6 separate regions of the Homo sapiens genome follow, and regions 2, 3, 4, 5 and 6 are each linked to region 1. The links come from fine-mapping of genetic effects on gene expression. A gene starts in region 1. Each other region holds a variant in brackets. All regions are shown on one strand. Distances are between the middles of the regions. Region 1 holds the start of TECPR1 (tectonin beta-propeller repeat containing 1). Region 2 overlaps BRI3 (brain protein I3). Region 3 overlaps TECPR1 (tectonin beta-propeller repeat containing 1). Region 4 overlaps BAIAP2L1 (BAR/IMD domain containing adaptor protein 2 like 1). Region 5 overlaps BAIAP2L1 (BAR/IMD domain containing adaptor protein 2 like 1). Region 6 overlaps BHLHA15 (basic helix-loop-helix family member a15).

Evidence for each region.
Region 2: its variant is fine-mapped to the expression of TECPR1 in whole blood (TOPMed, PIP above 0.99). The same link has a PIP of 0.9 or more in blood mononuclear cells.
Region 3: its variant is fine-mapped to the expression of TECPR1 in whole blood (INTERVAL, PIP 0.97).
Region 4: its variant is fine-mapped to the expression of TECPR1 in whole blood (TOPMed, PIP 0.99).
Region 5: its variant is fine-mapped to the expression of TECPR1 in monocytes (CEDAR, PIP 0.95).
Region 6: its variant is fine-mapped to the expression of TECPR1 in whole blood (TOPMed, PIP above 0.99). The same link has a PIP of 0.9 or more in esophagus muscle, sun-exposed skin, thyroid, tibial artery and unexposed skin.

What each region holds. Positions count from the first base shown.
Region 1 is chr7:98,249,781-98,254,762 of GRCh38, reverse strand. TECPR1 (tectonin beta-propeller repeat containing 1) reads left to right here and starts at 2,531. Exons shown (of 26, transcript NM_015395.3): 1 at 2,531-2,637; 2 at 3,215-3,369. It overlaps LOC124901706 (a long non-coding RNA gene), which reads right to left and starts at 2,404. Exons shown (of 2, transcript XR_007060448.1): 1 at 2,235-2,404; 2 at 1-1,879. RefSeq lists silencers at 2,245-2,344, 2,435-2,824 and an enhancer at 2,141-2,884.
Region 2 is chr7:98,281,815-98,286,796 of GRCh38, reverse strand. It overlaps BRI3 (brain protein I3), which reads right to left. Exons shown (of 3, transcript NM_015379.5): 1 at 4,860-4,982; 2 at 4,344-4,446. Among named protein-coding and RNA genes, the nearest start is that of BRI3, 2.6 kb to the right of the region's middle. RefSeq lists an enhancer at 14-726 and a silencer at 4,620-4,959. The variant C/G (reference allele first, on the strand shown) is at 2,913.
Region 3 is chr7:98,220,162-98,225,143 of GRCh38, reverse strand. TECPR1 (tectonin beta-propeller repeat containing 1) reads left to right here. Exons shown (of 26, transcript NM_015395.3): 18 at 42-138; 19 at 264-343; 20 at 1,426-1,482; 21 at 1,974-2,154; 22 at 2,623-2,758; 23 at 3,391-3,483. Among named protein-coding and RNA genes, the nearest start is that of BHLHA15, 11 kb to the right of the region's middle. The variant G/A (reference allele first, on the strand shown) is at 2,013.
Region 4 is chr7:98,302,802-98,306,801 of GRCh38, reverse strand. BAIAP2L1 (BAR/IMD domain containing adaptor protein 2 like 1) reads left to right here. Exons shown (of 14, transcript NM_018842.5): 11 at 286-363; 12 at 2,426-2,606. It also overlaps a transcript of BRI3 not described here. Among named protein-coding and RNA genes, the nearest start is that of BRI3, 23 kb to the right of the region's middle. RefSeq lists enhancers at 1-457, 458-958. The variant TGA/A (reference allele first, on the strand shown) is at 2,298.
Region 5 is chr7:98,354,713-98,358,712 of GRCh38, reverse strand. BAIAP2L1 (BAR/IMD domain containing adaptor protein 2 like 1) reads left to right here. Exons shown (of 14, transcript NM_018842.5): 3 at 3,585-3,671. Among named protein-coding and RNA genes, the nearest start is that of BAIAP2L1, 44 kb to the left of the region's middle. The variant TA/A (reference allele first, on the strand shown) is at 2,047.
Region 6 is chr7:98,215,379-98,219,876 of GRCh38, reverse strand. BHLHA15 (basic helix-loop-helix family member a15) reads right to left here. Exons shown (of 2, transcript NM_177455.4): 2 at 4,420-4,498. TECPR1 (tectonin beta-propeller repeat containing 1) reads left to right here. Exons shown (of 26, transcript NM_015395.3): 24 at 1,835-1,941; 25 at 2,066-2,185; 26 at 2,374-4,498. The coding sequence ends at 2,487. Among named protein-coding and RNA genes, the nearest start is that of BHLHA15, 6.2 kb to the right of the region's middle. RefSeq lists an enhancer at 1,532-1,591. The variant C/T (reference allele first, on the strand shown) is at 2,754.

The DNA of each region.
Region 1 (4,982 bases):
TCCTATTGTTTATACAAAATGCAGATTCACTGAGCCAGACAGTGAGTAAGGCATATGTGACTATTCCTCTACCCACTCTCACATGTAAATTGTGTATTCAGTGAAAGGCTGATCACAGACTCAAAAGAAAGCAAACTTTTGGCCGGGCATGCTGGCTCACGCCTATAATCCCAGCACTTTGGGAGGCTGAGATGGGTGGATTACCTGAGGTCAGGAGTTCAAGACCAGCCTGGCCAACATGGTGAGATCCTGTCTCTACTAAAAATAAAAAAATTAGCCTGGCGTGGTGGCACACACCTGTAGTCCCAGCTACTCAGGAGGCTGAGAAAGGAGAATCGCTTGAACCTGGGAGGTGGAGGTTGCAGTGAGCTGAGATCTCACCACTGCACTGCAGCCTGGGTGACAGAGTGAGACTCCCTCTCAAAAAAAAAAAAAAAAAAAAAGAACTCGGGATAGGGGGACATGGGTCCCCAAGCCCCTGAATTCAGGAAAACTATATTGAACTTTGTCACCACACATGAAAACTGCAAGGGGCCACAGAAAGCTCCTAATTCAATGCCTCTTTTTCATTTTTTTTCAATGCCTCTTTTAATGTGGAAACTAAAGCTAAAGAGGAGATAAATGGCTACAGAGTGTCACAGGCAGGACAGAACCCAGGGCTCCCTACCTCTAGACTGTTTCTCCAGCAGTCTAGCGACCACTCATCCTCCTTTTTTTTTTTTTTTTTTTTTTTTGAGACAGAGTTTTGCTCTGTTGCCCAGGCTGGAGTGTAGTGGCACAATCTCAGCTCACTGCAAGCTCCGCCTCCTGGGTTCACCTCATTATCCTGCCTCAGCCTCCCGAGTAGCTGGGACTACAGGCGCCCGCCACCACGCCCGGCTAATTTTTTGTGTTTTTAGTAGAGACGGTGTTTCACCATGTTAGCCAGGATGGTCTCATCTCCTGACCTCATGATCCACCCGCCTCGGCCTCCCAAAGGGCTGGGATTACAGGCGTGAACCACTGCGCCCGGCCCACTCATCGTCCTTCTGCTAATAGCACCCTGATCTTCCTCTGAGGAGCCACCCCCTGTGCCTGGCTGAGCCCTTATGCTTGAGGGGGGCTCTGCCCACATCTCCAGACCAAGTCCACAAATGCCAGTCCCTCAGGCCCAAGCTAAAGTCAGGGTCAGACACAGGACTCCACAGAGCCATCCGGGGTGAACAAGAGGCTTCTGGGGGCGTTTTCTTCCACTGGAGCTGGCCTGTGTGGGGCTTCCCCAAACATGAAGGCCCAGGAAAAGCCTGTGTGCAACCCCAGAAATGAGACAGAACTAGAGGGGGAGCAGGAATAGGTCCCTAGGTCCAACCAGGTGACATTGGTTTAGCTCAATGTCGGGTAGTATCTAGCCTTCCATCAGATGCCCTTTTTTTTCTTTTTTGAGAAGGAGTTTTGCTCTTGTCGCCCAGGCTGTAGTGCGGTGGCACAGTGGCACGATCTCAGCTCACTGCAACCTCCACCTCCCCAGTTCAAGCGATTTTCCTGCCTCAGTCTCCCGAGTAGCTGAGATTACAGGCATGCGCCACCACCCCTGGCTAATTTTGCATTTTTACTAGAGACGGGGTTTCACCATCTTGGCCAGGCTGGTCTCAAACCCCTGACCTCAAGTGATCCGCCCGCCTTGGCCTCCCAAAGTGCTGGGATTACAGGTATGAACCGCCGCACCTGGCCGACATCTTTCTTTTTTCTCCTTTCTCCATCCTAACCTTGCCAGTTTTCTGCCAGGCGGGATACAGTGTTTTCAAATCCCAGTTCCATCGCTTACAACGTGAGTCGCTCCATCTCTGAGCCCGTGTTCGCATTTGTAAAATGGGAATGACGCCGCCAGCTCTTTGGGTTGCTGGGAGGATGAAATGAGAAGACCCAAGTAAAGCACTTACGTCAGTGCCCGCCACCCCGGGAGGACTCGCATATTACTATTAATATATTAGGCCAGCTTACACTGGGTTTTGTCACTGACAATAGAGTTTGAGCAATCCAGGGCCTGTTACTGACACCACACCATGCTATAGTCACAAAATCACATATGCTTCCAGGACTCCTCCTCGAAAGAGTAAAGCTTTAAGTGTAGTGTGTGCTCAAGGGCTACGTTTCAGTTCGATGGATACCAGGAAGACACCTGTTCCCTGCGTCCTCTCCACGCCCCAGGCCGGGCGCCCACACCCTGCTCCTCCTGACGCCGCACAGCCACGCACCCAGGTACCCTCTCCGCCACCCCTTCTCCTCGCCTGCAGGCGGTGTCCACACCGCCCTCTCCGCTCCTGCAGACCGGGTCCTGGAGGGCGGCCGGGCGGTCCACGGGCCGGTGTCGCGCCGCCAGAGAGAACGCGGCAACTCGCTTCAGCCGACTCTGGACTCCTGACCTGGCGCGACCCCGGAAGTGGGCGGGCGCGCGACCTCGAAGCCAGCACCGACGCGGCGCACCGCAGCCAATCGCACGTCCCAGGTCGCAGCGTCCTGGCGAGGCTGGCCAATGGGCACGGGGCCTGATGCCGCTTCCGGCCCACCCTCTTGCCCGGTCCCCGGGAGGGCCGGTCCGCTCCTCCCGGACGCCGAGGACCTACCACCGCGACTTCGCCCCGCCCGGCGCGGGCCCAGGTGAGTGCAGAGTGGCGCCCCAGCTGCAGCGGCGGCCAGGGCCGTGGGAAAGAATGGGGCGATGAAGGGCTGGGCACGCCGCCTTCCCCACCACCCCCAGGCTGTTTGCTCGCGGGGAGGGAGGAAGGAGGGACCGCACTTGTCATCTCGCCTGCACACCTGGAAGGTGCCGCCCCCGTCCCCTGCCCTGGAACGCCCACAGGCTAGCGAAGTTGCCTGGTGCAGGTGACGCCCCCATTCCAGCCTTTGGACTGGAGCCATAGGAGAAGCGGATCGCGGGATCCTGGTTGTTTTCGAGAATCACGCAGCAAGGGGCCTGCCTATCCCTCTCCCTGGGTATTGATGGGAGCAAATCTGCTTGTCGTAAGATTAGCTTTGGCAGATGGTCAGGGCCCAGAGCTCCGACATATGCTACTGGTGGCAGTGCAGGGGCCCCACCTGTCACCCAAGTGCACAGCACTGGGCTGAACGCCAGGCTGACTCAGGACACCTCCTGCCCGGTGGGGCTGGGCGGACCCTATTCTTCAGGAAAGAATCAACTACCATGCAAGTTCTGCTGCTTTTTCCCACCTTTTAGGACCCTGATGTCGCTTTTGAACAGCCCCTGCACCTGGCAGCCAGCGAGCTACTGTAGTAGGCATTGCCGACTGTTTGCATACCGGATGGGAGTGACAGTGTAATAGAAAAACAAGCAAGAAACCTTTTAGGTAGGACTCCTAAGGCTCAGAGGAAGTAAGTGCTTGCGGAGCGTTCTTTGTACTGTGTCTTTTCCTCTACCACATCTCTGTCCCCGCCTCTCTTGGGTGCTTTTTTTGGTCTCTGAAAGGATCTGTGAATAAACTGAGACAGAAAGGCAGATGGCTTTGAGGGTGGCGAGCAGACCTTCTTCGTGGAAAGACTGAAGGTTCAACTCAAATTCATCTTGTAGAAATTCTTGGTGAATTCGAGGCTGCTGATTTGGAAGATTTTCCTCCATCCCTCTAACCCTACAAAACAAACAAGTCCCAGGATCCCTGAATCATGGGGCTTCATGTTCCAACCCCCCTTTCAAGAGTCCTCTGACCCAGTGACCCTGTGTAAGTTGCCTGATCAGCTCACAGCCAGAAAGTGGCCCATGAGGAGCTAGGGGGAGCCTCTTGGCAGAGGCAGAAAGAAAGTGTGGCTGACCAAGGATGGTTACCGGATGTCAACTGTAGCTAGGAAGTGACGACAGGTGCCTGGGTCTCTACTCTGAAGGGAGTTTGTAAATACAGCAACCCCCCACCCCTCCCTTTCACTGTAGCAGAGTCTTCTCCCATTAACTGCCCAGAAGATTCAATGATGTCTATGAGGAAATTAGTGCTTAGTCATTTATTTGAAGGAAAGTCAAAATCTCCTTTCATTGAGCTCAACCTGCAGACTGAGTCTAGCTAAACTGCTTGCTTATCCAGTGAATTCTGAGCTATCTTTGTTTTGTTGTTGTTGTTGTTGTTGTTTGTTTTCCTTTTTGAGACAGGGTCTCGCTCTGCTGCCCAGGCTGGAGTGCAGTGGCACAATCATAGCTCACTGTAGCCTCAAACTCCTGGGCTCAAGTGATCCTCCTGCCTCAGCCTCCCAAGTAGCTAGGATCACAGGCATGTGCCACCACACCTGGCTAATTTTTTTTTTAACTTTTTATTTTTACAGAGATGGGGTCTCCCTGTGTTGCTTAGGCTGGTTTTGAACTCCTCGGCTCAAGCGATCCTCCCACCTCAGCCCCGGAAAGGGCTGGGATTACAGGCATGAGCTACTGCACCTGGCCTCTGAGCTATCTTTGAAGGCTAACTTATATTTAACACTATAGAAAGTGACAATTAAAAAAAAAAACCTTCGTCTTCCCCTAGCATTTTATTGAGGATTTTCCCACATACAGCCAAGTTGAAAGAATTATACAGTCAGCATCCCCATCCCCACCAACTAGATTCTACTATTGACACTTTACTTGCTTTATCACATATCTGTCCACCAATTATGACCTTACTTTTCAAGTTATTTGTGGCATTTGTTTTCCCTGGAGAAGTATTTCTGTCTTAGATCAGGGAGTTGGCAGTGTGTTGGAGGTAGGTGGTGGTGATTATCCTTAAATGTTGTTTCAACACCCACTGTGTGCAGAGACTATTATGGAAATGAAGAGGCTGAAGACTCAGACCTGAAAGGGACTTGGTTTTTTGTTTTTCTTTTTTTTTTTTTGAGATGGAGTCTTGCTGTGTTGGCCAGGCTGGAGTGTGGTGACACGATCTTGGCTCACTACAATCTCCTCCTACCAGGTTCAAGCGATTCTCCTGCCTCAGCCTCCCAAGCCGGCTAATTTTTGTAGTTTTAGTAGA
Region 2 (4,982 bases), 32 kb before region 1:
GTCTTGCTGCAGAAATATTAAAGTTTTAACTGCAGTACTGCCCTAGACCTCAAAAGGAGTGTTGGCATCATTTACTTTTTAAAACCCCAAATCTTCTGAACTGAGAAACACAATCCAGATTCTAGGTCAAGACTCCCCAAGCTGCAGGGCAGTCCTGTCCCCAGCACTGGAGGGCAGAAGGGGAACCCCTGCCCCGGAACACCTGCGGTCCCCACAGCCTCGAGTTCTCCTCCCTTCCAAACCCGGAAGAGCCCACCTGAGTTGGTGAGGTGGGTTTCAACCTTCTCAACCGCTCTGGTCCTGACCGGCTCTCTCTAGCCGCCCCTCCCCCATTCTTGTGCAATAAGCCACGCGGCCAGGGAGGGACCATGGCCACTGGCGAAATTAGGGAACTGACTAATTCCAAGAGCACTCCCTTAAGGCGACTCCAGTCCTGCAGTGAAAGTGGCCAGTCATGCCACTGTCATCCACTCAGAGCTGGGCCCTGGGACAGTAGAGGCCGCGGGGCTCCCGCCTCACCAAGGACAGAGGGGGCTGGCAGCAGGGCTCTGAGCTGCCCAGGGAGAAGGCCATCCTCGCCCTCCCTGTGTCCCCACAGGCACTTTACAGGAGGCTGAAGCTGAGGGTGTGTCCAGGGACTCCCAGCCGGGAAAGGCGTGGCTGGGATCTGAACCCAGATGGGCTCCCCAGTCACGAGCACCCATCCTGCAGGTCCCAGTTCTCCCTCCCAGGTAGCCCCCAAAGGCAGTGTCACAGGGGGCTGGCCCTAGGGCACCAAGCTGCCCTCTGCGCACATGGTGGCCTCAAGGCACCATCCACGCCCAGGAACAACCCCAGACCACCACCCCGCTGGAAGGCCAGGCCTCGCCAGGAAAAGGGGAGACGCAGGGCTTCCTCAGAGGGCTGAGGGCCTGAAGCCATGCTCAGCGCAGGGCGAGGTGGCCCCAAAGCAGCTCCAGCCAGGCTCTGGCTGTCCCAGGGTGTCCACTCCCCACAGGGGAGCTGCCTGGCTTAGGGACAGTTCACCAGGACCTCCCAGGGCCATTCCCAGCAAACCCAATGGCCAGGGCCAGCCCTCGCCTCCCCTGTGGAAGAAAGGCCTGAGAAGGTGCCCGGAGACTCTGCCTGCCACCACACCCACCCCAGCAGTGCCACTTGGCCCACAGCTGGGGGCTGAGCCCAAGGTCAGAGACTCAGGAGGCCACTGAGGGAGCACTTGGGCACCGAGGTCTGCAGCCCTGCCCAGCAAGCAGCCCAGGCCCAAGCTCCGGCCCATCCGCTGCCCCCACACCTCAGGCCAAGACTGTCAGGACGGGGACAGCCCACAGGCCATACATATGGGCAGAGCCATCCCAGCTAACTCAGCCACTTCCTCAACCAGGGGAGCTCTGGCTTCCAGGTCACAGGTGGTAGGAGGGAGCAGCCCCTCCACCTCCATCGTCTGGAAGCCCAAGGCTGTCACAGGCTCCTTCCCCTCCAGCCCCTCCCGGGCTCCACAGTCACCACCCCGTGCCCTCCACAGCCCACCTCTGCCCCCCAAGGGCCGTGGCAGCCTCCACGCTGGCCACTGAGCCGCACCCTGGACCTCTGAGCGACATCCGCCCTCCACAGCTGTTCTTTTCACCTTCCCTAGGAAAAGTGAAATCCTTTCCAGGATTTCCTCTCTCTCTGGTCACCCCCAAAACTAAATACCCAGTGACAGCCCAGCCAGTACTCATGGGGGCCTGGTGCAGGCCAGGGGCCTTCCCCACTCCTGCCTTCCCCGCTTGCAGGACGCAGGCTCTGCTCCAGCCCAGGAGAGCCTCCCAGCGCAGCTACCTCATCCTGCACCTAGGTACAACCACACCCCCAGCAAAGAATGACTGGCCTCCCTGGGCAAGGGAGAACCTGGCTTCAGGGAGGCCCAGGCCTTGGGCAGGGCAAGGCAGGGCAGGGCAGGGCAGGGCAGGGGTGAAGCAGGAGGGTGGGAGGAGCAGGGACATATCCGCCGCCAGGCTGCGGAAATGCTTCCTCATAAACGGCTAGAAAGGGAAGATGGAGTCAGGCAGCTTCAGCGAAGGCCTGGCCAGGGCAGCAGAGCCACAAGGGACACGGGCTTCTCTGGCCAAGCCTCACTCAGAAGGACTAACAGATGTGTGACTTGGGCAAATTCCTGCCATGCCACCAGGCAGGGAGGGGGACAGAGCCCGGCGGGCTGGACCTGGGGCAGGAGGAAGTGTGGTCATGTGAGTGGTATCCTGTCTCCCGGGCCAAGACGCCAGGCAGCGGCCAGACGTGTGTGTTGTGTGTTCAGGGAACCGTCTCCACTCTCCTCGCAGAGAGGAGTGGCCCAGGGACCACACACCCCACCCACGCCAGCAGCAGAGCACCCAGCCCCCTGCTCGCCCTCTGGCTGCCACAGGGCACAGGGGCCCATCCCATGCCCAATGCAGCTGCAGAGGCAAAGCCTCGGGGAGCCAGAGCCACTCTCCAGCATCCAAGGCACCACGGGCAGAGCGCAGGGACGTGTGTGCTGGGAGGGCCTGGCTGCAACCCAAGGGGTCGCCGCAGGATCCAAGAGTGCTCTGGTCCCAACTTAAAGGACTAAGGACCCCCCAACCTTGTCCAGAGAGGACCCAGCCTCCACCCTGCCTGGTGCAGCTGCCCAGAGGCAGAGAGCAGTGATTAAGTAACCAAGGACCCCACACCCCTACAGCCTCTGAGGGCCGAGCCCAAGATCCTTCCCAGCAGAGCACAGTCTGACCCCGCTCCAGGTTCTGCATAACTGGAGAGCACCTCCAGGTTAGCGGAAGCCATGGGCCTCCGCAGGGACACAGTTCCCACCTAGGGAAGGGGAAGTGGCAGGGCCAGTGCCCCCATACCGACAGCAACTGCGCCACCACCTCGGCGCCCCCCAGCCCTGGGATATCTGG[C/G]CCATCCCTCGCTGCCGCTGGTCTCTCACCTCTCCAAGTTCAGGGGTTTGGGCAGAGAAGAGCTAAGAGCTTCAGAGACACCTCACCAGACACCCCCACGTCCCAGGTGGGGAAACAAGCCCCGCTGTTCCTGGCAGGACCAGGACCGGAACCCGGCTCCTCCGGCAGGCTGGACACCGGGATGGCAGGGCATGGACAATGACACGCAGGCAGACCCTCTGCTCCTCCATGTTCTGAGTCCCCTCCATGTGCCTTCACACTCACACAGCTCTGCCAGCCCCCCAACCCGGTGCAGCTCCGGGAGAGAACTATGTCCCGAAGGCAGCCAGCGCCCCACCCTGCCCTCCCTCCACCTTCACTCCAAAGGCTAATGTTTCTGCTGGGTGGTGACCAACTGTGTCAAACTGACGTCCCAGTTAGGGTTTGTCACGGGGTCCCTGTGCAGGCAAGCAGCCACAACCTGCCCCCGAGGTCCCAGCCTCTTGTCCCCACCTCTAGGTTGCCCTTCCTTCCCAGGAAGTTGCCTGCTAAGGCTCTGAAATCACTCACTTCCCCGTGACTCCACTCTAGGCCTTACACACACACTTTTGAAATCAAGTCTAAGTCCAAACCAGGGTTTCTTAATTCCATCTCAGTGGCTTCAACTTCCTCCTCCGAGACACAGCTGAAAACCCTGTCCCGGCCAACTCTGCCCCTACTTTCTAAGCAATCTGAACACCCCCAGCTGCCAAGGGTTTATATTTAATTAATCCTTATTTAAATGTGAATCCTCAAAACCTCCACAAAACAAGCCTCTAGCTGCACCTCGGGGCCCTATAAAAACCAAAAAGCGTGTGCAGGTCCAATGCGAGGATATGAAAAAAATAACTCCTGCCTCAAAGAAACACGGGGTTTCCATCCTGGTCCAGCTCGTGGAAGAGCGTTTCAAGCCAACTTTGGATAAAGCAGCTCTTACGGCCGTCGCTTCTCCCACTGAGGTCTGTCCTGCTGGTGCACTTACTTCCAAATGCCCCTTCCGGGAAAATGAAACCTTCCACCACCTTCGACGATCAACTGCAGAGTAAACTTGCGGAAAGTGAAGGAAAAAGCAGACACCTGATTCCTTGCAAGTCCCAGAACAAAGACGAAAGGACCACGAGTCCCGTTGTTACCATTTCTACATCCCAATCACTTGGGGTGCAATGCCCCAAGATCTAGGAAAAGGAATCCACCCTTTTGCCCCCACAAAATGTGTTCAGAGCCAAGGGTGAGCGGACCCGCACTCTCCCACACCGCATTCGGGCAGCCTGTCTGTCCCTCCCATAAAGGGCTCTGGTCAAGATCCAAGTCAAGCCGGACCCACTCCCACAAGCAGAGCTGTGAGGTCCTGGGGGTTAGGGCGGGGGTCCTCAGAGCTTCCAGGGCCAGTCCCCAGGCTGCAGACCCACTCACCTGCAGACAGGACAGCCTCCTACGACCACGATAGAGTTGGCAGGATAGCGGGTGACGGTCCGGCTGTGGATGTTGTAGACCCTGGGATGGTGGGTGGGTATCCCTGTGGGCGGGAAAGCAGGTCATTAGGGTGCAGGGAGGAGAAATCGGACCGCCACGGGGACTACTCATCCTGTCCCCTCAACCTCCACCCCGCTAAAAAAGCCCCCGGTCTTTTCCACCCTCGGGACGGCCACCGCGGGCCTGATTCGGCGCTAATCTGCCAACAGCGAGCGCCTCGTGACACAAAGTTCATCTGGGGCAGGGATCCGGCCCCGCCGGGTTACGACGGGCCCGAGGACTAGAGCCCCGGGGGGGAGGCTGGCCCTCGGCGGCGCCGGGTCCCGAAGCCAGCCCGGGGACCTCCAGCTCCAGGAAGGACCCCCGGGCGGGCCCCACCCGCCTCCGGACCCACGTCCCCCGACCGGGCTTGCCACCTCGGAAGCCGCCGGCGGGGAAAGTTGGTTACGGGCCCACCTGTGACGAGGTAGGGGTAGGGCGGCGGCGGGGGCGCGGCGGGGATGGCGCCGTAGCCGTGCGGGCCGCACGCGTAGTCGCCCTGGCCGGCCTCCAGGTTGTAGGCGGGCGGCCGCTCCTGCA
Region 3 (4,982 bases), 30 kb after region 1:
CCCCAGTCTCCCTCGTCACCTGCCCTGTTGTCCTGCCGCAGGGGTCTGCCCACGGACCGGTACATGTGGAGCGATGCCTCGGGGCTGCAGGAGTGCACGAAGGCTGGCACGAAGCCCCCGTCCCTGCAGTGGGCCTGGGTGAGGTCCCGCTGCCCCCTGGGGGGTTGGGAATCCGCCCTCCCACCCCTCCTTGCCCCTCCTCGAGTGTTCTGACTGCCTTCTGGATTCGGGGGGTCCCATCCTCACTGACCCACTCCTCCCAGGTTTCCGACTGGTTCGTGGATTTCAGCGTTCCGGGGGGCACGGACCAGGAGGGGTGGCAGTATGCCAGCGACTTCCCTGCGTAAGCCTCTCCCTGCACAGGGCCTTCGGGCTGGGTCCTGAATGTCAGGGCCCTGGAGTGTGTGGCCTCTGGCCTCACTGCTCTTCCAGGCTGAACCCTGCCCCCTAGGCCTGGCCAAGGAGCAGACCCCTGGTGCCAGCCCTGCTACTGGAGGGGGAGGAGCCAGCAGAGAGGCCAGGAGGGGCCCAGGGGAGTGCTCCCTGCACACGTGGCACCCCTGGCCTCCATGTGTGGCACGGGTAGGAGCACCATGGCTCCCCCACGCCACGTTCATCCCTGCTGTGCCAGGCACGGGCTCTGGGAGGGTCAGATGGTGGCACCCAGGGCACCAGACTGAGGGGCTTGAGGAGGGCGAGTGGCCTCTACAGCCTTAGCAGGGTGAGCTCTGGGGGGCTTTGAGCCAGGCCCTTAGTGTTGAGGGACCCAACACGAGATGTTAGGTGAAGGGGCAGTGTGAGCCCCTCGGAGAGATGCAGTGGCTGTCACGAGGCCCTGGACCCTGGCGGTGCAGGTGCACGGCGTGGGCAGGCCCTTCACGGCACAGTCTCAGCCTGTTGGAAGATGGAGCCAGGACAGCCTGAGCTGGGGCCCAGAGCCAGGTGGCTTCTGAGCAGACCAGGACCGTCCCCTCGGCCACAGCCAGGCCTCCTGGACCACCCTCCGCTCAGCCTCGGGCCTCATCCTGACCGAGGGCTCTTGCTCCCCAAAAGGGCTCTGATGGGGCCTGGGGAGGGGAGGGCTGAGTCCCCTTAGCCTGACCCCTGACAAGTGACTGCTCCGCTCCAGCCCCAGGGAGGCCCGACCCCCTTCCCCAGGGAGACCCCTGCCCCTGGGAGGCCCCAACCCCCAGGAGGCCCTCCCTGCAGGTCCCCAGGGCTGCACTCAACCCTGATCCTGCCGGGGCAGCCAGGAAGCGCCTCCTGAGAGCCGCGCGTGGTGACACCTCCTTCTCTGAACCCCATCCATGGCTTCCACCCAGTCCCCATGCCCTGTAACGGGTAGAACAAGAATGTTTACATGCACGGTCCCTTTCCAGAAACTTCCACGAAGTGGCCCTGATTTCATCTTCTTCCTCCTTGCAGCTCATACCATGGGTCCAAAACGATGAAGGATTTTGTGAGGAGGAGGTGCTGGGCCAGGTGAGGCAGGGCTGCAGGGTGACTGTCACGGTCAGGCTCCTGGAGGAGCCACCCTTGAGGGAGCTCTGGTTCCCTGCACCCCGGGCCAGATCTCCTGGCCTCTGACCTCAGTCCCAAGGGAAGAAGCAGTGGGGAGTAGGGTGAAGAGGGAAGCCGAATCTGAGTAAATGTCAGCCCAGGAAATGCCCGCAGGCTCCCGGTGCTCTCTGGTTTCAGAATAGTTTGTTTTCATGAACAAATAAGAGAAATGTCACTGGCACACTCCACCTGTGAGCGGGACAGAGAACGGGGCCTGGCTGGGGCTGGGGGTGGGGGTGGGGGCCTGGCTGGGCCTGGATGGGGGTGGGGGTGGGGAGGAGGCCACCTCTGGGCCCCTCTTTCTACCCGCCCCGGGGTTGGCTGCTTTCCTCCTCCTGGCTCCAGAGGCAGAGGCCCTGGAGCCTGGTGGTCACCTTGGGGTCCCTGGGCTGTGTCCCCTCTCCACTGTACAGAAAATGCAAGCTGGTGACCAGTGGGCCCTGGCTGGAGGT[G/A]CCCCCCATCGCCCTCAGGGACGTGTCCATCATCCCGGAGAGCCCGGGTGCCGAGGGGAGTGGGCACAGCATCGCCCTCTGGGCCGTCAGCGACAAGGGGGATGTGCTGTGCCGCCTGGGCGTGTCGGAGCTCAACCCTGCGGTGAGTGCCGGGGCCAGACAGATTCTTCTTGAAATGAGACCTTTGCTCTGGAGTCCGGCAGGGCTCAGACCCTGCTCAGGACAAGCCCCTAGGACCAGTGGACACTGCCTGTGGTCCGAGTGGGTCCCTGTGCCCTGGGGCAGTTGGCCCAGGAATGAGGCGGGTGGGGCGGGGGTGACAGAGGTGGGCCAAGGGGACACTGCGGCTCTTTGGCACCCAGTCCTTGGTGGTCAGCACCCCGGTGAGGTGCACACGCCCACGGGGGCGCTTTCCCTGCTCGCAGGAGGATGAGATGCGCCCAGGATTTCAACAAGCACCGAGATCAGGCCGGGTGGGGCTGTGTGACTCCCGGCTGTCCCCCAGCCACCTATGCTGCCCACGCGCTAGGCCCATTTCTGCTGGTCCTGGAGGTGGGGCCCTGGGGGTGGGGGCCCTGGTGACCTCAGCGCCCCTCCTTGCTATCCCCAGGGCTCCTCCTGGCTGCACGTTGGCACCGACCAGCCCTTCGCCTCCATCTCCATCGGGGCCTGCTACCAGGTGTGGGCCGTGGCAAGGGACGGCTCCGCCTTCTACCGGGGATCCGTGTACCCCTCGCAGCCAGCCGGTGAGTGCCGCGCCCCAGGAGCCCCTGCAGTGTTCACCTTCCGTCCAAGCTGATGTTTGCTGAACATCCCCTCTGGGCCAGGGTCCCCCAGAAGCTGGGACTTCCCCCAGAAGTGGGAGTCCCCCTCCCACTGGGACTGACTGGGAGGTGGTCACCCTGGTAATGGGGCAGCTGGAGCCAGGCCTGCCTGGCCCTTCCTGGGGTGGCCCCTGTGTCTCGGCCCTGCAGGGTCCACTCCACAGTGACCAATCTGGTGGCTGCCCGGGAGGACGGGCTGTGCTGGCTTGTTCTTCTCCAGATGTCCAGTGTCCAACACGGGGACGCTGGTACTCAGCTGCCCTCTGCACAGGGATGGGTTAGCAGGGCAGCCCCTGAGGCTGGGTCTCCACCATGAGCTGCACAGGAAGCCTTTGTGTTGCGCTGGCAAGATGAGTCCATCGGAGCCCGCCATGGCTTCCAGAGACCCCAGGCACAGTGCTGGGTGGACGGCAGGGCACGTGTCAGCTCTGTGTGGCACACAGCTGACACCAGGCTACACATCCGAGAGGCAGCTGGGGACCGAGGCCCACAGCCCCACCTGGCCCATGCAAGGAGGAGAAGGCAGCGTGCCTGAGTCAGCCTCCCCTTCGCAGGTGACTGCTGGTACCACATCCCGTCCCCACCGAGACAGAGGCTGAAGCAGGTGTCCGCGGGGCAGACGTCGGTGTATGCCCTGGATGAGAATGGCAAGTTGCTCTTTTTTTAAATTTTTAATGTTTTGGCTGGGCATGGTGGCTCACACCTGTAATCTCAGCACTTTGGGAGGCCGAGGCCAGCGGATCACCTGAGATCAGGAGTTCGAGACCAGCCTGGCCAACATGGTCTGCATGACACAGTGAGACTCTATCTCAAAAAAAAAAAAAACTTTAATTTTTATGGGTACAGAGTGGGTGTGTATATTTATGGGGTACATGAGATGTTTTGATACAGGCATGCATGCATAATATCACATCAGGGTAAAGGGAGTATCCACCTCCTCAAGCCTTTATGTTACAAACAATCCAATTCTACTCTTTTAGTTATTATTGTTATTATTTTTTCTTTGAGATGGAGTTTCGCTCTTGTCTCCCAGGCTAGAGTGCAGTGGTGCAATCTCGGCTCACTGCAACCTCCACCTACTGAGTTCAAGCGATTCTCCTGCCTCAGCCTCCCAAGTAGCTGGGATTACAGACACGCACCACCACACCTGGCTAATTTTTATATTTTTAGTAGAGGCGGGGTTTCACCATATTGGCCAGGCTGGTCTCAAACTCCTGACCTCAAGTGACCTGCCCACCTCGGCCTCCCAAAGTGCTGGGATTACAGGTGTGAGCTACCGCGCCTGGCCCTCTTTCAGTTATTTTAAAATGTACCATTAGCCAGGCACAGTGGCTCATGCCTATAATTCCAGCACTTTGGGAGGCTGAGGTGGGCGGATCACTTGAGATCAGGAGTTTGAGACCAGCCTGGCCAACTTAGTGAAACCCATCTCTACTAAAAACACAAAAATTAGGCCAAGCGCGGTGGCTCACACCTGTAATCCCAGCACTTTGGGAGGCCGGAGCAGGCGGATCACAAGGTCAGGAAATCGAGACCATCCTGGCTAACAGTGAAACCCTGTCTCTACTAAAAATACAAAAAATTAGCTGGGCGTGGTGGCGGGTGCCTGTAGTCCAAGCTAATCGGGAGGCTGAGGCAGGAGAATGGCGTGAACCCCAGAGGCGGAGCTTGCAGTGAGCCGAGATTGCGTCACTGCACTCCAGCCTGGGTGACAGAGCGAGACTCCGTCTCAAAAAAAAAAAAGCCAGATGTGGTAGTGCGCACCTATAATCCCAGCTACTCAGGAGGCTGAGGCAGGAGAATCGCTTGAACCTGGGAGGAGGAGGATATTGATTGCAGTGAGCCAAGGCATGCCACTGCACTCCAGCCTGGGTGACAGAGCAAGACTCTGTCTCAAAAAATAAAATAAAAATAAAAATAAATAAAGTAAAATGTACCGTTAAAAAATTTTTTTTTTGTTTTTGAGACGGAATTTCATTCTTGTTGCCCAGGCTAGAGTACAGTGACATGATCTCGGCTTACTGCAACCTCCGCCTCCCAGGTTCAAGCGATTCTTCTGTCTCAGCCTCCCAAGTAGCTGGGATTACAGGTCCCTGCCATCATGCCTGGCTAATTTTTTTGTATTTTTAGTAGAGATGGGGTTTCG
Region 4 (4,000 bases), 53 kb before region 1:
CATGAGTTCGAGGCTGCTGTGAGCTATGATCGCACCACTGCACTCCAGCCTGGGCAACAGAGCGAGACCCTGTCTCTATTAAAAAAAAATTGTTAACAATACACATTGTTCAGTGTATGTGAAAGTCCATATTTACCTATTAAAAGCCTTAATTTCATTTCCTCCACACATGGGCGTTTCTGGAGCAGTGGACCTGTCTGCCCTGAGCTCTCACCAGGTTGTTCAGGGAGGTTGCCGTCCACATGTCTACTGCTGATAGGGTCTTTTCTCCCTCTTTGCCGGTAGGAGGGGTTGGTTCCCGTCGTCGTACACGAAGTTGCTGGAAGAAAATGAGACAGAAGCAGTGACCGTGCCCACGCCAAGGTAGCCCTGAACGTGGCTGAGCTCTCCCGGTGACAGAAACCCCTGCCTTGTCGTTTCTGTAACACACCACCATCTAGCTGTGTCGCAGGCCCTGCCCTAAGCCTCAGCTCTCGTGGACTAGTCAGAGATGAGACCGCGGCTCACAGTGCTGTCTGCCGTGATTTCTGTTGTCCCCGAGCTTTGCTGCTGTGAGGAGACCCAGCCCAGGCCACCTACTCCTCGCAGTCCTGCAGCCCTCTGAAACTCCCTCCCTGTGCCCTGCCCCTCCTGGTCGCTAAACCCAAGCCATGTGTTTTCCGTCCTTATCTTACACTTATCTTACCGTTCTTATCTTACAGCCCTTAACGCTGTTGTATGCTTTTTCTGGAATGTTCTCTGGCCCCGGCTGCTTGACCTGTGCTCTGTTTGTCTTCTGCCTCACCAGCTCTTTGCACCCCTCTTCTGCCCATCAATTAAACATCAGTGTTCTTGGGAGTCACCCTGGGTCCATCCTTCCTGCCTGTGCTGGGCCATCTCATCCACTCCCATGGCTTGAAATACACTGATGGGCTTTGCTGAGCACCTCCATGCCGAAAACCCCCAAATCCGTATTCCAGATCAGATACTAACAGTAGTTATTGCCTAGAGACTGTCCAAAGGACTTTGCATTGATTTTTTCACTTAATTCTCACAGCAGACCCATGAGGTGGGCCCCCACTTTAAAAAATGAGGAAACTGGCCGGGCACGGTGGCTTGTGCCTGTAATCCCAGCACTTTGGGAGATGGAGGCAGGAGGATTACTTGAGGCCACAAGTTCAGGACCAGCCTGCGCAACATAGCAAGATCCCCATCTCTACAAAAAAAATAAACAATTAGCCAGGGCATAGTGGCATATGCCCATTGTCCCATCTACTCTGGAGGCTGAGGCGGGAGGATCGAAGTTCACAGAACCCCCATAACCCATCCAGCTAGCCAGGTAGAAGGCCTCCAGGTCCGACGTTGCATTCCCCAGGGTCTGATGCTGTCTGCAATCTTCATCCCTAGCAGAAGAGCTAAAATGCCATTGTGCTGGGGAACAAAAACTGAGTAACACTTTTAGGATGTTAAAATTTCAAGTGTTTACATTTTTTTTTTTTTTAACTCTTAGCTCATTGCTCACTCCAGCTTTTGCTAGTCTCCAATTTCTTTCCTTAGATTAAATCAATCAAGAGCCAGCCCCTAATTTAAAAGGTTTCCTCTCCTTTTGTCATGTCTTTTAAATAATTTTTTGGCCAGGCGCAGGGGCTCATGCCTGTAATCCCAGCACTTTGGGAGGCCGAGGCGGGCAGATCACCTGAGATCAAGAGTTCAAGACTAGCCTGGCCAACATAATGAAACCCCGTCTCTACTAAAAAAAAAAAAAAAAAAAAAAACAAAAAACAAAAAAATTAGCTGGGCGTGGTGGCAGGCGCCTGTAATCCCGGCTACTTGGGAGGCTGAGGCAGGAGAATCACTTGAACCAGGGAGGCGGATGTTGCAGTGAGCCAAGATCGCGCCACTGCACTCCACCCTGGACAATAAGAGGGAAACCCCATCTCAAAAAAAAAAAAAAAAATTTCTTGTGAGGATATGTTTAGAAACCACTAAAAACATTAGTGTTTTAGGCCGGGTGTGGTGGCTCATGCTGTAATCCCAGCTGAGGTCAGGAGTTCAAGACCAGCCTGGCCAATATGGTGAAACCCCATCTCAACTAAAAATACAAAAAATTAGCTGGGCACACTGGCGTGCACCTGTAATCCCAGCTACTCAGGAGGCTGAAGCAGAAGAATCACTTAAACCTAGAAGGCAGAGGTTGCAGTGAGCTGACATCATGTCATTGCACTCCAGCCTGGGTGACAGAGTGAGACTCTGTCGCAAAAAAATTTAAAAAATACAGTGTTTTGTATTGATATATGTACTGTGTGTGTCTGTGTGTG[TGA/A]GATCAAGATCAGGTTTTGATTGGTGATGTACTATTACTGTTGTCCTTGGTCAGGGACACAGAGGATGTTTGGGGTTTGGTGGTGAGACATTATCTAACACGTGCTGTGTCCTTTTTGGGTTTGAGCCCCACACCAGTGAGAAGCATCAGCACCGTGAACTTGTCTGAGAATAGCAGTGTTGTCATCCCCCCACCCGACTACTTGGAATGCTTGTCCATGGGGGCAGCTGCCGACAGGAGAGCAGATTCGGCCAGGACGACATCCACCTTTAAGGCCCCAGCGTCCAAGCCCGAGACCGCGGCTCCTGTGAGTAAAGCCGCAGCAGGGCGTCCTGGGTCCTGGACTCGCCATCCCCGACTGGGAGGCGCAGGTCCTGTGGTGACCGCCTTGCTCTGCTCTGTCCCCAGGGGGAGAGTGGTGTCCCCGGGGAGGAGGGAGGAGGGGACTTGCTGCCTTTGATCCTCTAGATTCCCTTCTTTGTCATGCAGCCTTTCACCTCCTTGACTTCAGCCCTTCTTTCATGTGGACTCTATCTTGTCAGTGAGAGTTTACACACAGTCGCCTCTAGTTTGCTAGATTTTATTAGGTTTCTTATCTTTCCTGCCTGGCTGCAGTCTTCTAGCCATTGAATCACCATTTTCTTTCATTTTCTTATTTTCTGAAGAGAGGCTTACATTAAAAGTGGTAACTTCATCTTTCTTCAGAAAGTCTTTACTCCCAGGCACTGTGGATGTTATCTTTAACCCTAAACCTTCTAGGCACGGCGTTTAGGGTTAACGATAACCCTGAAAGATAACCCTAACGTGCCTCTGGGGGCCCAGCATGGAGGTCCTGGGCTCCCGGAACCAGTTCATCCATTCCCGCCACCGCACAGAGGCCCTGGTGTGGGCTCTCCAGCTAGAGGAGAACAAGGCCGGACTCTGCCTGCCTCTTCAGAACTTCTGTTCTAGTGATAGGAAGCAGACAATAAAAAATAAACAAAAACACTGACACTAGAAGCCATGCAGAGAATAACACAAGGTGAGGTGATGGCGTGGTGGGGAGCAGCGCGGCTGGACATCACTCCCGGGCTGGGTTGGCTGAGGTTAGTGCGCCCTGGTGTGAGACCTGTGGGTGAAGGGGAGGAGGCTGGGTGGTGGTGTCTGCACCCCTCGCTCCAGGAGCTGTCTTGCTTTGGGGCGAAGGAGCCAGGCCCCTATACCTTGTGTCCGGGGCCTTAGTTCAGCTGTGAGTGGTGCCCAGGTGTGGAGTGTCTTGATGATATGAAACGGATGTGCTTCTAAGATGTGCCTGCCCCAGACCTACGCGTGAGCCTTGAGGAGTCTGGGAACGTAGACCTGCCTCATTGTAGACTGCATTGGCATGATTTGGTTTAGGAATGCTAGCTTTTGAAACTTCATTCAAAATGTCTTTGAAGCCAGGTGCAATGGCTCATGTCTGTGTAATTCCAACACTTTGGGAGGCCAAGGCAGGAGGATCACTTGAGCCCAGGAGTTTTAGACCAAACTGGCAACATAGCAAAACCCTATGTAGACAAAAAATATAAAAAATTAGCCAGGTACGGTGGCACATGTCTGTAGTCCCAGCTGTTCAGGAGGCTGTGGTGGGAGGATAGCCTGAACCCAGAAGTTCGAGGCTGCTGTGAACTGTGATCATACCACTGCATGCCAGCCTGGATGACAGAGACCCTGTCTCATAAA
Region 5 (4,000 bases), 100 kb before region 1:
GTACATAGATTGGTCTAGACTGATGAAGTAGTTGGCCAACCACTAAAATAGAACTATGCTAGGTATGGTGGCTTATGCCTGTAATGCCAGCACTTTGGGAGGCTGAGGTGGGAGGATCGCTTGAGCCCAGGAGTTCAAGACCAGCCTGGGCAACATAGTGAGACCCTATTTCTAGAAAAAATAAAAAATTAGCTAGGTGTGGTGGCGTGCACCTGTAGTCCCAGTTACTCAGGAGGCTGAGGTGGGAGGATGGCTTGAGTCCAGGAGGTGGAGGCTGCAGTGAGCTATGATCACACCACTGCACTCCAGTGTGGGCAACAGAGTGAGACGCTGACTCTTAAAAAAAAAAAAACAAAAAACTAATATGCTTCTTTCCTTAAAACAATAAGTAGTAGAAAATATCTTAATGTGCTCACAAAAGGGAGGCAAAATTATGAAAGTATTATTTATCTCTTCTGGCTAAATTTTATAATTTTCAAGTTAATTTAACTTTATCATCATAGCAAAGATATTTTACAAGACCGAGAAGGTTACATGGTTTTCAATGTAAGTCAACAATTAATGAAAAATTGTGATTTCATGTGTGGATGCAAACCAAACATTTTGCTTAAATATTGTGTAATCCTGCATTCCATTCCCGCACTAATTTGCTTTTCAGATGATCAGTACTTTACAACTTAACATCTTCATACTAAGATGTTCCATCTTACAACTTGACAGTTTCCTGGCTACACACCTTGTTTTTAGGTGGAGTCACTTCTTTCTTAGTTCTAGACGAGACCAAAGAATCAGAAAGCACCATAATTTAGAGCTGAGGAAGTGAAGTGCCCAGCCAGAGCTGTGTGCCTTCCCGCTGACTCAACATTGACCTTGGGTATGTCCCAGAATATCTCCACTCCGCTGCCCTTAGCGCAACGGGCTGATGACATTACGGACTGTGTCTCAACATAATTGGATAGATTAACTAAGTATGTATATAAATGCTAATTGCTATTGTTCTTTTTACATTTACACTTTAAGGTTGTTCTGAGTCTTATAATAGTGCAGTAGATAGAATATTGCATTTCCTAAAGTTGGATATGTATATGGTAAAAACCATAACTTTTATATATATATAAATATATATGTACTTTTTTTTTTTTTTTTTGAGACTGAGTCTCACTTTGTCGCCAGGCTGGAGTGCAGTGGCGCAATCTCAGCTCACTGTAACCTCTGCCTCCCGAGTTCAAGCGATTCTCCTGCCTCAGCCTCCCGAATAGCTGGGATTACAAGCATGTGCCACCATGCCCGGCTAATTTTTGTATTTTTAGTGGAGACGGGATTTCACCATGTTGGCCAGGACGGTCTTAATCTCTTGACCTCGTGATCCTCCTGCCTCAGCCTCCCAAAGTACTGGGATCACAGGTGTGAGCCACAGCACCTGGCTATAAATTTTTAACTCTACAATAAATCCTAAAGTAGATTAATGTGCCAGAAAAAATATACTACTGTTTTGGCTTTTCATACCTTCAGCTGGACCTGCACATGAATTAATTCTGTGGCTCACAACTATAATCCAAACACTTTGGGTGACTCAGGCAAGAGGATCCCTTGAACCCAGGAGTTCAAGACCAGCCTGGGCAACAGAGTGAGACCCCTACTCTTAAAAAAAAAAAAAAAAAAATATATATATATATATATATATATATATATTTTTTTTTTTTTTTTTTTTTTTTTTTGAGACAGGGGCCTCACTCTTGCCCACGCTGGAGTACAGTGGTACAGTTGTGGTTCACTGCAGTCTTGACCTTCTGGGCTCACGCAATTCTCCCACCTTAGCTTCCTGAGTAGCTGGGACTACTATAGGCGTGTGCCACCACCACCATGCCTGGCTAGTTTTTTTTGTTTGTTTTCAGTAGAGATATGGGGGGGTCTCCTTATGTTGCCCAGGCTGGTCTCAAACTCTTGGGCTCAAGTGATCCTCCTACCTCAGCCTCGCAAAATGCTAGGAGTACAGGTGTAAGCCACTGCACCCAGCCCCTTCAATTTTTTTTTTTTTTTTTTTTT[TA/A]ATTAGCCAGGAATGGTGGCACGTGCCTGTAGTCCCAGCTACTTGGGAGGCTGAGGCAGAAGGATCCTTTGAGCCCAGGAGGTCAAGGCTGCAGTGAGCCATGATCTTGCCACTGCACTCCAGCCTGGGTGAAAGAACAAGACTCTGCCTCTAAAAAAATAAAATAAAATAAAATCCACCTTGTTAAAACAATTGCCCATTATACATTGCGGCATTGCAGCTGGTATAGCCTCTGGGATTCCCGAGGGCTCTTTTAGCTCCAAAACTGTGTGGTCTCCAAAGCTCCAGGAGAAACTGATTTCTATGTCTGAAACCAATCTTAGAGTAAAATTCCAAATAAATGCTTTTCTCCAAAATTACACTAACCAGGCTGGGTCTCTATCATACATCTTCAATACCCTCAAACCTAGATTGTAAAGTGAAAAAAGTGTATTAGCAGCTTCCATTTGTTCATCTGTCACTCACATTCTTAGGGCATTTTAAGGATGAGCAACCTTTGTTTCAGAAAGGGTAAGTAATTTGCCCCTGGAGGTTACATAGTTATAATTTAGTCTTCAGAATCAGTTCGAAGGGGGCAGTACTATTTTTAAGATAATTAGAACCCACCTTGTAGCAATAAAAGTTTTCTTGTCTTTGCCAAAAAAGAAAAAGTAGAGCATTCAGTTATTTTTTCAGACAATTGTGTTGCTTTTTGGAATGATAATATATTTCAAATTTCATATATTCTCTCCTGGCAACAAATAGGTTGGTTGGTTGTGGCTCAAAATGCCTTTTTCAATAGAAAAATTAAGCACTGCCATCAAAGGACCAGGCTCCTAGTCCACCTCACACAACTCCTAACTAAGAATGTTGCAGACCTGGAGTGCTGGAGAAGAACTAGCTCAGAAAAGATTTCTGGCTGGAGAGGATGTATCTTCTTTTTTTATATTTATTTTTGAGACAATATCTGGCTGTGTCACCCAGAGTAGAATGCAGTGTCATGATCTCGGCTCACTTGCAACCTCCGCCTCCTGGGCTCAAGCGATCCTCTCACCTCAGCCTCCCAAGTAGCTGGGACTGCAGGCACACTCCACCATGCCTGGCTAATTTATGTATTTTTTTTTTTTTTTGTAGAGGCGGGGTTTTACCATGTTGCCCAGGCTGGTCTCAAACTCCTCCCACCTCAGCCTCCCAAAGGGCTGGGATTACAGGTGTGAGCCACCGTGCCCAGGCAAAGCCCTAGTTCAACGTTAGGAACGCATCCACTCTGAAACTGGCATCAGGAGCAAGCTGAGCCTTCTCTGGACTTTCAGCACCTGCTGCTGAAGGTTCCCCGGGGCTGGTCAGAGACGAGGATCTCATGGGGCTGTCCCTTGGCTGGAGGGCCTCCACCCCGGCACCACTCTCAACACAGGTCTTACCTCCTGAGAGCCACACCTGCCACAGCCCAAACCTTCCTGCAGCCAGAAGGGACCAGGGGGTGTTTGGAAGAAAACTTGTGTTGCTTCCTCCTTTCCTTGTCTAAGTGACGATTTTGTGTGTCACCTTTTGTGTCTAGCTATGATCCTGGCAGGAAAAGCCTACTACGATGGAGTGGCCAAGATCGGTGAGATTGCCACTGGGTCCCCCGTGTCAACTGAACTGGGTGAGCGATCTGTCCCTTTATACATAAACCCCACTTGTCATCCTGTGAACCCCAAGAGAAACGCGTGGGATGGCCCAGTCCAGAACAGAGGAGAGATCTGGGCCAGCATGCTGTGGTTCTACTTCACCGCGGTCTGTGGAAATTGATGCTTAGTCGTAGGGTGGGCTGGGACTGGTGCCGGAGGGCGAGTGGAGGCCTTGTTTTCTGGCCAGCCTCCCTGTTCTCCTAGGAACTTGAGCTTTTGCCCTGGGTGCCTGGGCTCTCACCCTTCCCGCTGGGAGTTTGACCTACATTCCTGATGGGCGAGCCGGGCCTCCTGGGGCCTCGGG
Region 6 (4,498 bases), 35 kb after region 1:
CAGGCTGGAGTGCAGTGGTGCGATCTCGGCTCACTGCAACCTCTGCCTCCCAGGTTCAAGCGATTCTCCTACCTCAGCCTCCCGAGTAGCTGGGATTACAGCCATGCACCAACACACCCGGCTAATTTTGTATTTTTAGTAGAGATGGGGTTTCTCTGTGTTGGTCAGGCTGGTCTCGAACTCTCAACCTCAGGTGATCCGCCTGCCTTGGCCTCCCAAAGTGCTGGGATTAAAGGCATGAGCCACCGCGCCCAGCCGCATATCTTCTTTTGAGAAATGTCTATTCATGTCATTTGGCCACTTTTGGATGGGATTATTGGTTTTTTGTTTTTTGTGTGTGTGCTGATTTGTTTGAGTCCTTCTAGATTCTGGTTATGAGTCCTTTGTCAGTTGCATAGTTTGCAAATATTTCCTCCTATCCTGTGGGTTTTCTGTTTACTCTGATGATTATTTCTTTTGCTCTGCAGAAACTTTTTAGTTTAATTAGGGCTCCTTTATTTTTGTTTTTGTTGCATTTGCTTTTGGAATCTTAGTCAGAAATCCTTTGCCCAGGCAAAGCCCTTGAATAGTTTTTCCTAGGTTTTTTTTATAGAATTTGTATGGTTTTAGGTCTAGATGTAAGTGTTTGATTCATCTTGAGTTGTTTTTTTAATATGGTGAGAGATACGGATCCAGTTTCATTATTCTACATGCGACTATCCAGTTTACCCAGCACCATTTATTGTATAAAGTGTCCTTTCCCCAGTTTATGCTTTTGTATGCTTTCTCAAAGATCAATTGGTTGTGGGTATCTGGCTTTATTTCTTGGTTCTCTCTTCTGTTCCACTGGTCTATGTGTCTATTTTTATAGCAGCACCATGCTGTTTTTGTTACTGTAGGCTTGTAGTATAATTTGAAGTCCAGTAATGTGATGCCTCCAGATTTGTTCTTTTTGGTTAGAATTGCTTTGGGCATTGAGGCTCTTTGTGGGTTCCATATTAATTTTAGGATTTTTTTTTCTAATTCTGTAAAAAATGATGACAGTATTTTAATAGGAATTGCATTGAATCTGTAGATTGCTTTGGGCAGTATGATCATTTTCATGATATTGATTCTTCCACTGATTCATCCCATACTCATCAATCCATGAATATGGGATGTATTTCCATTTGTTTCTGTCATCTATGATTTCTTTCAGCAGTGTTTTGTAGTTCTCCTTATAGAGATCTTTCACCTCCTTGGTTAAGTACATTCCCAGGTATTTTATGTTATTTTTTGCAGCTGTTGTAAAAGGGGTTAATTTGATTCTCAGCCTGGTTGCTGCTGGCATGTAGCAGTGCTACTAATTTGTGTGCATTGATTTTGTAACCTGAGACTTTCCTGAACTCATATGTCAAATCTAGGAGTCTTTTGGAGGCGTCTTTAGGGTTTTCTAGGTATTTGATCCTATCATGGGCAAACAGACACACCGTGACTTCCTCTTTTTCGATTTGGATGCCCTTTCTTTCTTTCTCTTGCCTGATTGCTCTGGCTAGGACTTCCCTTGTCCATAGTTTCTGCCTCAGCAGAAAGAGGATCAGGAGGCCGGCCGTGCCCAGCACAATAGGGCGATTATGAGGCTCGGGGGACGCCCCGAGTGTGCAGAAGGCGGAGCTGGCTGCAGCCCAGGCTCCTGAGTGTGGAGAAGCGGAGGAGGCTGTGGCCCTGACTCAGGGGCCAGGACCCTCCTGCCTCCCCAGCAGCTTCCCAAACCCCGAAGTGGTTAGAGCGGGGCCTGGCCACCGGCTGCCGGGCCGCACGGGCAGGAGGGGCCGGGAAGGTCTTCCCCTTTGACCCTCACTGCTTTTCTCCCCAGGAAACCTGTGGTATCGCCAAGGGATCACGCCCAGCTACCCGCAGGGCTCCAGCTGGGAGCACGTGTCCAACAACGTGTGCCGAGTGTCCGTGGGGCCCCTGGACCAGGTGGGGGTGCTCAGGGGGTATCGGGCACTTGGGGTGCTCTGGTTCCCTCTCTGGTCTCCCCCATCCCATGCCCAGCCGTCCCACTGCAGGTAGGGCTGAGGGCTTCATGGGGTCTGTGCTCCAGGTCTGGGTGATCGCCAACAAAGTGCAGGGCAGCCACAGCCTGAGCCGGGGGACAGTGTGTCATCGCACCGGCGTGCAGCCTCACGAGCCCAAGGGCCACGGCTGGGACTACGGCATCGGGGTGAGCGGGGCCCGCGGCCTTGGGCTGTGTTATCACCTTGTGCCTGCACTGGGTGCTGAAGACGGGACGACCACTGTGGGACTGTCCCCTGGGACCCGGTGTCTGGGTTGCAGGGAGGCCCCCAGGCAGATCCCCTCCAGGATCCTCGAGTCCCCGAGTCCCCTGGTGACACAGCTCTCTCCTTCCAGGGAGGCTGGGACCATATCTCTGTCCGGGCCAATGCCACCAGGGCCCCCCGGAGCTCGTCCCAGGAGCAGGAGCCGAGTGCCCCACCAGAGGCCCATGGCCCCGTCTGCTGCTGAGGCCCCCCCACACACCTACATGCAGGGACGGTGCCCAGTTTGGGGGATCAAGGCTGAGCCATTCTTGTGCTGGAGTGTGCACCGTGGGAGCAATGTGGCCCAGGTGGACTCAGGAGGGAACCTGGCCCCAAGGCTGCGGCCACTTCAGAGGCACTGGCTGAGACGGCCCTGAAATGTGAAGCTCCGCGGACACTCCCACACGTGTCCCCGTCTGCGAGGAGTCCCGGGGTGTGGGGCATGGGGTGGGGCTGCACCTCCCAGAGGCC[C/T]CTCCCACCCTTCCCTTCCCCTCTCCCTTCTGCCTTTCCAGGACTAGAACCGGGAACCTGGAGCCCTCCGGGAACGCCGGCCCTGGGGCAGCAGAGCCAGGATGGAGCCCTCCTGAGCTGGCATCTCAGACAGCACCCGGGCCCGCCACCCCTCACCAAGAGAGATGGCCATGGGGCTCAGGGCCTCTTTACCATGTGCAGTGACCATTTCTCAGAGCAGGACTTGCAAAGAGGCTTTAATTTCAAAAGTGAAGGAAGGAGGCCAGGCGCCGTGGCTCACGCCTGTAATCCCAGCACTTTGGGAGGCTGAGGTGGGCAGATCACCTAGGTCAAGAGTTTCAAACCAGACGGGCCAACATGGTGAAACCCCATCTCTGCTAAAAATACAAAAAAAAAAAAATTAGCTGGGCATGGTGGTGGGTGCCTGTAATCCCAGCTACTCGGGAGGCTGAGGCAGGAGAATCGTTTGAACCCGGGAGGCGGAGGCTGCAGTGAGCCGAGATCATGCCACTGCACTCCAGCCTGGGCGACAGAGACTCCATCTCAAAAAAAAAAAAAAAAAAAAGTGAAGGAAGGAGACAGCAGATTGGAAATAACACTGGAGTGGATGGGATGTCCTCTTCCCTGAGGGGGCCGGGGTACCAGACGGGAGGCTGGGAGAGGATGAGAGGCTGCCCCATGGCTGGAGGCAGTGTCCGTGTGTGCAGTCACCATCATCAACCCCCATTCGGCCCCTTCCCCAGATGCGCTGGTGACAGGGGCTTCTTGGATGTCAAATCATGTTGTAGGAGGGTGCAGACTGCGGGCTTCTGTGGGGAGCAGTACTACTGTGTCTGTCGGCAGTGGCCATGGGACCCTCAGCCCGTCCTGTACATGGAGCAGGGTGCACAGTCACCCTCCATCCTGTGGCGAGAGGCTGGCCCGGCCCGGCCAGGCGAGGCAGAAGGTGTCGGCCAAGTGGCCCCGACCCCATCCCGCAGTCTCTCAGCTGCTTTTTATTACCTCTGTGCCCCATTTGGGAGTTTGCTTCCTCCACCTGGACACTTTGCCCGGGAGGTCATCAGAGCCCAACCCCAGGCTCTGCTCGGTTGGAGAGGGGATGACTTCACCACCACCTGACCTTCCTAGGGTCCTGGTCTCACTGTCAGCTGGGGGTCCGTTGTGTGTATTTGTACAGTTTTGCTGTATGGGGTTTGTCACCCAAAAGCTGATGCTGAGAAAGGCCTCCCTGGGGCCCCTCCCGCGGGCATCTGAGAGACCTGGTGTTCCAGTGTTTCTGGAAATGGGTCCCAGTGCCGCCGGCTGTGAAGCTCTCAGATCAATCACGGGAAGGGCCTGGCGGTGGTGGCCACCTGGAACCACCCTGTCCTGTCTGTTTACATTTCACTATCAGGTTTTCTCTGGGCATTACGATTTGTTCCCCTACAACAGTGACCTGTGCATTCTGCTGTGGCCTGCTGTGTCTGCAGGTGGCTCTCAGCGAGGTACGGGGAGGGCGTCACCCTGCAGAACGGCAGAGTGACGCGTCCTCTCGCTGCTGAGCACCAGCTGTTTACCTGCCCTGCATCACTTCCTCGGATACTTTACTCAATAAGCATTTCCCCTGGAGTGTCCGTGCCCTGGTGTTTTTTATCGATACGTTGATTAAAACGCGTGGTTCCCCGTGTGCCTGAAGCAGACATTGCTGTGAAATCTTTTATTTTTGTTTTATGACACAGCATCAATTTCATGAATACTTTGAAAGG